3 linked regions of the Homo sapiens genome follow. The protein of the gene in region 2 purifies or fractionates together with the protein of the main gene of each other region. This does not show direct contact. Each region holds a gene or a part of one and is shown on either strand. Other genes may lie near its edges. The genes, in order: TPST1, FBXW10 and MGAT1.

The links.
Region 1: the proteins of FBXW10 (region 2) and TPST1 purify together in Homo sapiens (affinity purification with mass spectrometry, with the first as the bait; one study listed by BioGRID). This does not show direct contact.
Region 3: the proteins of FBXW10 (region 2) and MGAT1 purify together in Homo sapiens (affinity purification with mass spectrometry, with the first as the bait; one study listed by BioGRID). This does not show direct contact.

The regions. Positions count from the first base shown.
Region 1 is NC_000007.14:66,203,709-66,207,458, reverse strand, and holds the start of TPST1 (protein-tyrosine sulfotransferase 1), read right to left. Parts: upstream 2,126-3,750; 5' UTR 1,937-2,125; exon of another isoform or gene 1,538-1,936; intron 1-1,537. UniProt on the Homo sapiens protein: Catalyzes the O-sulfation of tyrosine residues within acidic motifs of polypeptides, using 3'-phosphoadenylyl sulfate (PAPS) as cosubstrate.
Region 2 is NC_000017.11:18,771,546-18,775,195, reverse strand, and holds part of FBXW10 (F-box/WD repeat-containing protein 10), read right to left. Parts: intron 2,785-3,650; coding exon 2,513-2,784; intron 61-2,512; coding exon 4-60; intron 1-3. UniProt on the Homo sapiens protein: Probable substrate-recognition component of a SCF (SKP1-CUL1-F-box protein)-type E3 ubiquitin ligase complex which mediates the ubiquitination and subsequent proteasomal degradation of target proteins. Overexpression is leading to degradation of CBX5 and CBX1.
Region 3 is NC_000005.10:180,792,781-180,796,430, forward strand, and holds part of MGAT1 (alpha-1,3-mannosyl-glycoprotein 2-beta-N-acetylglucosaminyltransferase), read right to left. Parts: intron 3,096-3,650; exon of another isoform or gene 2,101-3,095; intron 1,587-2,100; exon of another isoform or gene 1,487-1,586; intron 318-1,486; 5' UTR 192-317; coding exon 1-191. UniProt on the Homo sapiens protein: Initiates complex N-linked carbohydrate formation. Essential for the conversion of high-mannose to hybrid and complex N-glycans.

The sequences.
Region 1 (3,750 bases), on a different chromosome or scaffold from region 2:
AGACGTTAGCTTTCGAAAGTAAGACCCCTCTTCTTCTGAGATCAGAGGAAAGGATATTAGAAATCAGGTACAGACAGGCACAGACAAAAATGACCTCTCCTTAAGAGTTCAGGGCTGATGCCCACCAATTTATTCTGTGAAGTTAAGTGGCAAAATAAGCAATGAAGAGAAGGCAAGAGTAGGACAAAGAGTCAGAGAAAAATGGTAAAGATCCATAAACAGCCATTTAGATTTTAGGACATAAGAGGAATCTAGAGGTTAAGTCAAAGGATCTCCAGGATCCAGAAGTGCAGAAACAGCACCCAGCAGTTTAGTTATATGATTTTTGCCAGTCTGCCTTGGGAGCCCAGGAGCAGAAAAAGCTGACTGATTCGTCCAGGCTTGAGACCATCAGAGCAAAGGTGGCAAGAATAGTACAGGGCCAATGACAATGCTTTTATCATTTTAAAAAGTCAAACGTATTTTACTCTTTTTTAAAAATCGACTCGCTATTTCCTCCAAGAGCGAGTGTTTGGAGAGGGGGAGGGAGAGGGGTGGATAATTCCTCTCTCACTCTTAGAGGACTTGTCAGAAGTTTCATTCTTAAGCATATTTGGTCTGTACAGCAGCTGATTCCAGGAAATCCAAATCCTGATTCCTCCTGGATCTTAAAAGATGAAAATTCATTGCAGCTCCCTGGACTATCCAGCTAATAGATAAACACGTACCACATTGCTTATATACTATGCCACTTTAGCTGGGAGGTAGGGGCTCTTTCTTTCCTAAAAAGAAAGTTACCCAAACACTGCAGATGGGGATGGAGAGGGGATGGGGAGTAATTACACCGCAAAGCCTGCTGACTAGCAGCCTAAGAATCCTTTACAAAGGCAATTAACATAAAACAATACATGGCACGGATAGCAGAATTGTTTCTTCTTAATGAATGCAGTAATTGACCATTTAATCGCTTTACTGGAGTTCACCAATTTCTCCTGCCATCTCCCATACCATTCTTCAGGCAGAGTCAAATCCCTGTGGACACTGGACTTCTTGCTACCATCATCTGGAAAGTACAAAACGCCTGGAAGGAGGAAGAGGCTAACATGCGTGACCACCCACCATGTGCCAGGCCTACTGTGTGCTAGACTCTGGGCAAGGGACTTTACATGTTATGGGGTGCAGCTCATGTAAGGACGAATGAAGATATTACACTATGGATCTGAGCCAGGCGCAGTGGCTCACGCCTGTAATCCCAGCACTTTGGAGGCCGAGGCAGAAGGATAGCTTGAGGTCAGGAGTTCGAAGCCAGCCTGGGCAACATAGAGACTCCATCTCTCAAAAAAAAAAAAAAAAAAAGCGATGAATCCGGCATTGCAGAGAGTGGGAAAGTGTCTGGAGGTTTAAGAGTAAGAGAAGGAAGAGGAGATTGCGATGGTGGGTGGTCAAAGTGAGGGGAGAAGAGGCGAGTTGGGAAAGGAAGGTGCTTAGGAGCAAAAGGGCAAGACCCAGGGACACCTGGAGCGGGGCGGGCGACTGCCATGCAGACAGGACTACGTACAACGGGTAGGATGATGGGGCGATGAGCTCAAGAAGCGCAGCCGGGGTAGACGTGGGGGCAAATGTCCGATCCCGGCGAGACGAGGGTCTCATCCCAGGGGACTGCGGGGCTAGGACGTGGTCCCAGGGCTGCGAGAAGGGAGAGAAAGGGCAGAGGGGAGAGGCCCCGGCGGCCGGGGCGAAGCCGAGCCCGGGAAATGCCGGCGATGGGGGAAGGGGCGTGGGAGCAGGGGCCGGACGGGCCAGACCCGGGGCTCCGCGCTCGGGGGCGGGGTTGGACAACCGGGAGGCACCGAGCAGAAGGCGACAAGGGGCCAAGGGATGCCAGGACGGGGCACAGGGCCGGGTGTGAGGAGACGAGAGGGGAGCGGAGCCGCAGCGAGCGCCGCGTCCCCCTTACCTGGGATGAGTGAGGAGCCGCCGCGCCGCCTGGACGGCATCCTGGCCTCAGCCGCTGGTCCCACCGCCTTCGGTGGGGGGCCACTCGGGAGCCCGCCCTCACCGCCAAGCGCCGGCAGCTGCCAGCCTGGACCGGCCCCGCAGAGCAGCGCCGTTCCGACCCGCAACCGAAGCCGCCTCAGCAGCGTCTCCCGCGGTCGCCAACTCAGCGACAACCGCCAGGGTCCGGGGAGGTGGCGGGATCACACATCTGCTACGATTGGCTGAGCGGACGATGTGTCGGCTGCTCTGATTCGTGAGTTCCGGCCGGCTGCCCACCGAAGGAGGCGCGGCTGGGAATGGAGCTGGGTCCGGCAGGCGCCGAGGGGCGGGGGTCTGACGTCGCAGCCGGCCAGCGCCCCCACAGCCCTTCCCGTGCGCGCTCCCGAGGGGGCTTCCCGGCAGCCGCAGGCCTGGCCGGGTGGTTGCCCTAGCAACAGCGCGCGTGGCCTGGCTGCAGGGGAGCCGCGGGCAGGTGGCGGTCCTCACCGCCCCCACCCCCAACGTGGGTGTCCCAGAGGCCTTCATCAGTGAAACCCTAGGACAGGAGAAGAAAATGAGCTTTTCCTGATAATTCCTCTCCTCTGCTTCAGAGCCCACCTTTGCCCGCTGCTGGCAGAGAAGCTGTCATCTCCTCGGGGAGATAACGCGCAAATGCAAATAACGAACTCAAACACTATTTCATCCCCACGAGAGTGTAGACGTGCAATAGTCCCTCCCAACCACAGAGGTGGGGGGCTGACGCCCTAAAAGAAAGAAATGAAAACTAGGGAGAAAAAGGCAAAGAAGCAAAAGAAAGGTGGGGAAAGGGCAGATATTTCACAAAATGATCCATTCATTTTACAGTTTCTTCCTACAGACACATCTACACCAGGTTCTGTCAAAGCAATTATTTCTACTCCAGTGACATGGATTAGAGAAGGCATGAGTGCAGAATCTAACAGCTGTATTCAAAATTGCTCTCTGCTAGGCCAGGTGGGGTGGCTCATGCCTCTAATCACAGCACTTTGGGAAGCCAAAGCTGGTGAATCACCTGAGGTCAGGAGTTCGAGACCAGCCTGGCCAACATAGTGAAACCCCGTCCCTGCTAAAAATACAAAAATTAGCCGGGCATGGTGGCGGACGCCTGTCGTCCCAGCTACTGGGGAGGCTGTGGCAGGAGAATTGCTTGAACCCGGGAAGGTAACTACCTTCCTTTGCACACAGTATAATATTTTCAAAGTTCATCCATGTTGTAGCATGTATCGGCACTTCATTCCTTGTTACGGCCGAATAATAGTCCATTATACAGACATCACCTTTTTTTTTTTTGAAGAGTCTCACTCTGTCTCCCAGGCTGGAGTGGAGTTATGTGATCTTGGCTCACTGCAACCTCCACCTCCTGGGCTCAAGTGATTCTCATGCCTCCGCCTCCAAAGTAGCTAGAATTACATGCATGTGCCACCATGCCTGGCTAATTTTTATATTTTTAGTAGAGACGGGGTTTCATCAAGTTGCCCAGGCTGATCTTGAACTCCTGGCCTCAAGTGATCTGCCTGCCTTGGCCTCCCAAAGTGCTGGGATTACAGGCATGGGCCACCGTGCCTGGCTGGACATCATCTTTTATTTATCCATTAATCCATTGATGGACATCTGTTTCTACTTTTTTGGCTATTATACATGATGCTGCTATGAACATTTGTGTAGAAGTTTTTGTGTGTGGCCGGGTGCAGTGGCTCACGCCTGTAATCCCAGCAGTTTGAGAGGCCGAGGTGGGCGGATCACAAGGTCAGGAGA
Region 2 (3,650 bases):
TACCATCTCTTCGGGGTGATTTTGACTTTCCTTGACTTTGAAGTTCCTCTATTAACACTGCTAAATTGAGATTGAGGAAGAAGCTGTAGTCATTATATACTTCGATTAGGGCATAAAATAATATAATCAATAATAATGGGGCTGATAATTGGACTGATTTTTATACAAAATATCACTATCTTGTTTTTTATGGGTACATAATTATACATAATTATGGAGTACATGTGATATTTTGATACATGCATAAAATGTGTAATGATCAGATCAAGATAATTAGGATATCCATCATCTTAAACATTTATCATCTCTTTGTGTTGGGAACATTCCAAATCTTCTCCTCTAGCTATTTTGAAATATACAATACATTATTGGTTTTTTGTTTATTTGTTTGTTTGTTTTTGAGATGCAGTTTCGCTCTTGTTGCCCAGACTGGAGTGCAATGGCACGATCTCGGCTCACCGCAACCTCCACCTCCTGGGTTCACGTGATTCTCCTGCCTCAGCCTCCCAAAGTGCTGGAATTACAGGCATGCGCCACCACACCGGCTAATTTTTTTGTATTTTTAGTAGAGACGGGGTTTCTCCATGTTTGTCAGGCTGGTCTCAAACTCCCGACCTCAGGTGATCCACCCGCCTCAGCCTCCCAAAGTGCTGGGATTACAGGCATGAGTCACTGCGCCCGGCTATACATTATTGTTAATTGTAGTCATCCTACCGTGCAACCAAACGCTGGAACTTATCCCTTCCATCTAACTGTATTTTTCTACCAAACACCATATTGTTTATTGTCGTATGAAACCAAGTAGTTACCTGGAGTCTGTGAAAAGTAAAGAGAGTGTAACAACCTTCTAAACTGACGTATGTGACAGGGAAAAGTGAAACCCTGGAAACTGAGTCACATAGCGCAGCTGTTTTCCTGCTCTGGTGCGTGACCATTCCTTCCAGACCTTTGTGCTGAGGTCTTTTCCATTAACCAGACTCTCTATTCTTCATTGAAACCAAGACTAAATGATGTGGAGATAGACACCCTTGTGATTGTCACCTCTTTACAGCAGAATGTTAAGCAACTCCCCTTGTGATTGTCACCTCTTTACAGCAGAATGTTAAGCAACTCCCCTTGTAATTGTCACCTCTTTACAGCAGAATGCTAAGCAACCATTAGAGTGTAATCAATAGTAGCCGATCTAGTCTTACATCTGTATGTTAGCCTTTGTATGGAAAACTGAATTCTGTTCAGCACCTCTGTTTTTGTCTATTTAAAGGATCTTCACTTTTCCCCACTCCAGGAACACTGGTCACTAGTCTTTGGTGCCCCTGTGTCCCTGGATGCTGCCCTCAAACTTTGCACTCGGGTAAACTCTTTTAGCTAGATCCTGAATCTTTTGGTTATTTTAGGTTGGCAATTCTAAGGCCTAGATCCCATCCTGATTCCCCCTCCCACCCACTTTTCCTACTGTTAAGCATTAGCTAACACTCTCAGTTCCCTCCTCTCAAGAGATAGCTGACTATTTGTAGTGTGATATGCTTGGGGGTGATTTATCATTGTTCTCTATAGATCTGTGGATCCAATTTCACATGCCAAATATAGGGCTGGTAAAAGGAAGGAGTCTTGCTACTCTAACCCACACATAATGTATTATTTGGATGTCTTATAAATGGCATTGGCCATGCCTGCACCCCCACCTACATACACACACACAAACACACACACACCTGCTTTATACGTAAGATTTTCCAGCTACAAACATTATCTCTCAGGTCTAAAAACAATACATTCTGCACAGATCATTTTTCTGCTTATAACAACTTCTGTCTCTGTCTTGAAGAAATAGTTATGTAATATATGTTTTGAATTTGGGGGGTGGGGGTATTGGTTGCTTGCTTTTTGTTTCAGTGGTAAGTATTAAGGCTAGTCTTATCTACTGTGCAAAGGTTCTTATAAGTTTGAAAATCTAGCTCTTGCAGGCCGGGCACGGTGGCCCACACCTGTAATCCCAGCACTTTGGGAAGCCAAGCCGGGAGGATCACCTGAGGTCGGGAGTTTGAGACCAGCCTGATCAACATGGAGAAAGCCCATCTCTACTAAAAAAAAAATACAAAATTAGCCAGTCGTGGTGGTGCATGCCTGTAATCCCAGCTACTCAGGAGGCTGAGGCAGGAGAATCGCTTGAACCTGGGAGGCGGAGGTTGCGGTGAGCCAAGATTGTGCCATTGCACTCCAGCCTGGGCAACAAGAGCGAAACTCCATCTCAAAAAAAAAAAAAAAAAGAAAGAAAGAAAGAAAATCTAGCTTTTGCAAACCAGAATGTTCCCTTTAACTGGCTGATAAATTGTTTAGTGGATCAGAGAGAATGGCTCCTACCTTCCTGGAGGGTTAGGATTTATATCCTCAGGAAACCACTGGCCAAAATATTCCACAAACGAACCAGTCCTCCCCGTCTCCCACCACCCCCACCAAACCCCGACCTGCTCTGTGGGTTATCACTGAACTTGCTGGTATTTCAGTTTTTTACCTGAAGAGAACTTGGCCGGCTTCAGGAGTACTCGGGACTTGGGAGGTTTGCCTGGTAGGAGCTCTTGGATCACAGTTTGTTTACTGGATACAGACTCTCTTGGGCTGTGAACCTGAATATTACACTTAGAGAGAATTTCCATGAGACTATTTTCTTCTTTTTCCTCCTCTTTCTCCTTATTCTTCTTTTGTTTCGTTTTTTCCACGGCATACTGCCACTTTATGTGCTCAAACTGGAACATGAGAACATTGCTCTCTGTGTTGACCACCATCCTGGAACCGAAACAACAGGGTTGTCCACAAAAGGACTGTGGAGGCCACCGAAAGATGCACTGCAGTTACCATCCCACCTGGTCTTTAGACTAAAGGAACAGTGCCCAGGTGATGACCAAACAGACTAGTAGTGTAGGCAGCTGGAGGGTGGAGAGTGGTGAAAGTTACCAGGAGATGCAGCAGGAGTCGTTAGCTTTGTCACTCTTTTCTTTAAAAAATAAACATGATCGGGGCACATATGTTCCGATTGTTTCACTTCTCAAGTCAAAATGCTTTTTTATTTTTTATTTTTATTTTTTTATTTTGAGAAGGAGTCTCGCTCTGTCACCCGGGCTGGAGTGCAGTGGCATGATCTCAGCTCACTGCAACCTCCGCCTCCTGGGTTCAAGCGATTCTCGTGCCTCAGCCTCTTGAGTAGCTGGGATTACAGGTACGCACCACCACGCCCAGCTCATTTTGTGTTTTTAGTAGCGACAGGGTTTCGCCATGTTGCCCAGGCTGGGCTCAAACTCCAGGACTCAATGATCCACCCACCTGGGCCTCCCAAAGTGCTGAAATTACAAGCACGAGCCACTGCGCCTGGCCTCAAGTTAAAATGCTTTTAAATGAATTTCTGTTCCTGGAGTGAGTGCCACGTACCTAGGGTGCCAAGAAGGTACTCTGCACACAGATGTCTTGAAATTCAGTGTTTTTGTTTCTTTGTTTGTTTTAAGCACAGCTTCCAAACCCAATATTACTATTGCTGCTGGGAATGAGGAAAGCTCTCTAATGGGGAGGCCTCTTCTCCTTCATAGACCCTCCACGCAGACACCACACACTCCATGCTGTCACTCCAGGATCTCTGCACACACTCTAGATGTAGACAG
Region 3 (3,650 bases), on a different chromosome or scaffold from region 2:
TCCACCTCGGCGTCTTGGGCCAGGCGAATCACTTCCCGGGTGAGGCTGGCGGGGTCGCCATCGAGAGCGCTGACTGAGGGTGGCCTGCCAGGTGCTGGGCGCGTCCAGAAGAAGAGGAGCAGCAGGGCATTCCAGGCCACAAAGAGGATAGCGCCCCACAGCACAAGCCCTGCAGACTGCTTCTTCAGCATCCTGGCCCCCACCGGGGAGGGCAGGCCAGGGGACGGTTCAAGGCTGCCCTGGGCTTGCCCGGCTCCCTTGCCCGCAGTCCTAGGGATGCCTCCTCTGGACTATGGGATTAGGAGGCAGCCATGCACCTAAAGACAGGAGAGAGAAAGCAAACCGTCACACAAAGGCTCGTGGCTCCATGCCCCACAGGTAGAGGAAATGGGGGCAGGAAAAGGCCAAGAGTGAGGGTGGAGGAAGGCCAGGAGGTTGACTCCAGAGCTCTCTAGGGAGTCAACATATATCCTGACCCAGGAACGTATTTTTGAGGGAGAGGCAGAGAGTGATGCTGGTGGAGGGAGAGAGAAAAAGAACCCCAACTCCCCTCTTTCTACCTGTCAGATTTCATTTCCCCTCCAGGTGGGAAGGAGGAGGGGAGGGGCAAGGAGTGACAGCATCTGCCTACCATTCCTCTAACCTAAGCGCCCCAAGATGACTGATTTTTAAAATCAAATGTCCCACCTCAGGGCTACAGTTAACCCCTTACCAACAGGGAAGCACCAGAGGCACCCCACGAATGTCAGGAGCAAAACGAAGTTGCCCATCATCTCCAGGGTTATTTAACATTTTGCTGGAGGAAGCAGCCAATGCAAATGAACCAAGAAAAAAAAATTCAAAGCAGAAGTGGAAAGGAAGCAAACTATTTCTATTATCTTTACTTGTGAGAATATGCCTGGAAAACTCAAAAAGAATCAATAATGAACTGAGCAAGGAAGTGTAATATAAAAATCAACATATACTAATGGATAGCCTTCATATCCACAAATAACTCATGAGAAGAAAACATGGATGAGAAAACCCTACTTACAAAAGCCAGAGAAATGAGAAAATATTTAGAAATAAACTTAAATAAACTTAAACATTCAAAACTTATGTGAACAAAACTATCATTCCTGAAAGACACAAAAGAACATCTGAATATCCCTTGTTCTTGGTCAGGACATTTCAGCATCATCAAAAATCCCAATAAAAATACCTTTTTATGGAGCTAGACGAACTGACAGTAAAGTTCACATGAAAAACTAGGAAAACAATAAAAATAAGCTGTGAGGAGGGACTCAGCCCTACCAGATATGAAAATACTGCATACTGGCCAGATGCAGTAGCTCCTACCTGCAATCCCAGCACTTTGGGAGGCCAATACAGGAGGATCACTTGAGCCCAGGAGTTCAAGAATAGCCTGGGCAGCACACGGAGACCCTGTCTCTACAAGTAACAATTAAAAAAAAAAAAAAAAAAAGCTGGGCATGGTGGCACGCACCTGTGGTCCCAGCTACTCAGGAGGCTGAGATGGGATCACCTGAGTCTGGGAGGCTGAGGCTGTAGTGAGCTGTGATTGGATTGTGCCATTGCACTCCAGCCTGGGCAAGAGAGTGAGACTCTGTCTCAAAAAAATTTTTTTTTATTATATATATATATATATGGCATACTACAAAACCTCCATAATTACAACTGCGTGGTACTGGTACATAAATAAACAGACCATCCAGTGAAATAGAATTTAAGCTCCAGAAACAGACTCATTACACAAAAAAATCTAATATGTAATAAAGGTGCTACTTAAAATTCCCAAGGCAAAGATGGTCTTATTAATAGTGTTATAATAATTACGTAGCTATGCTATAGCTTGAATATGGTTTGTTCTCTGAAACACATGTTGGGATTTGATCCCCTGTGTGGTGGTGCTGCCGGAGGTGGGGTCTAGTGGTAGGTGTTTGGATCACAAGGGGGGCAGGGGCAGATCCTTCCTAACGTCCTCTGGTGAGTGAGCTAGTTCCCCAGGGATAACAGGCTGTTATAACCAAGCCCAGTCTCTCCTGCATGCCCCATTTCTTTCTACTTTCAGCCATGTCCCTACAAAAACCTACACAGGAGTGTTGATGGTAACTTTATTCATAATCACTCAAAACTGGAAATAACCCAAAGGCCCATCAACAGGGAAATACAGATAAACAAATTGTGGTTTACTCATAGAATGGAATAATATTCAGCAATAAAACTGAATAAACCACTGACATACACAACACAATCTCCAAATAATTACACAATATGGGTCTTTTTGGGAAAAACAAAAAAGAGCACATACACTGTGATTCCATTGACATAAAACTGCCGAAAATAGAAACTAATCTATATTACAGAAAGCAGATCAGTTGTTGCCTGGGGATGGAGGCAGAGAAGGGCAGTAGGGTAGTTACTACACAGGGGCATTAGGAAGCTTCTAGAAGGGTGGATATGTTTATTATCTTGATTGTGGTGATACTTTTACAGGTATATATATATATATATATATACACACACACACATATATGTCAAAACTTATCAAATTGTACACTTTATATGCAGTTCTTTGCACATATTGATATCAATTGTATGTCAATGAAACCTCAAAAAACTTTTTTTAAAAAGACGTTATTGGGTAAAATGACAAAGGTGGAATATGGACAGTAGGTTAAAGTATCAGTGATAACTGATTAATTCCAATTCTTAGGTAATACACACTGAAGTATTGAGAAGTAGAGGACCAGGATAGATGCAACTTCTCAAATGGTTCAGAACAAAAACATACTCTGCACACATAGAGAGCAAATGGAGCAAAATATTAACAGGTGAATCTGAGTAAAGAGAGTGTGTACGAATATCCTTATACTATTTTTTATTCTTGCAATTTGTGTAAGTTTGAAGCTATTTCCACACGAAGTTTCTTGACAATCAAATATGTAGATATTGCCCATAGCTCTGAAGAGCTTCATCCATCAGCGTAATCCCAGCTGGCACATCAGCAAGGCAAATTGAGATGATCTGTTTGCCCTGAATTCCTCGGTCAGTCACCTGACGACGTGTATCACACACCTGCTCTCTGCCAGGCTCTGGGAAGGAACCAGGACACAAACCAGTGAGAAAAAGGCATGGTCCCACCAATCCTCCAAGCTCTACCAGACCACATTACTTGAAAGGATCTGAAACACTCCCCAATTCCCAGCCAGCTGCCACTCCAGACCATAACTCCTTGACTGTCCTGCCTCTGGTCTACCCTTTACACCCCAAAGCTTCAGGCGTGCACCCTCTTACACCAACAGCTCTGCCAGTTGCCCTCTGCCTCACAGGCTACTCTCTAATCCTGGCCAAAACCTTGGGCCTCAGATCTAACCTCTGAGGCTCTGGGCTCTCAAACCAGCAGATCTGGTATAAAAGGGCTGATCCTGAAGGGCCTCTAAAGAGACATGGATTCTGTCTCCCTCCTGGGGAGACTTCACCAGCCCCTGCCAGCATTCACCACCAACCACTTGTCTTCTTCCTAGAAACCAACCACCCCCACCACGCCAGGACATCAGTCTTCTCAGAAACGTCAAGTCTGTTTCCATGTAACTGTGCAATTAAATTCTATTATATCAGGGCTCAAATATTATGTATCAATTAGATAC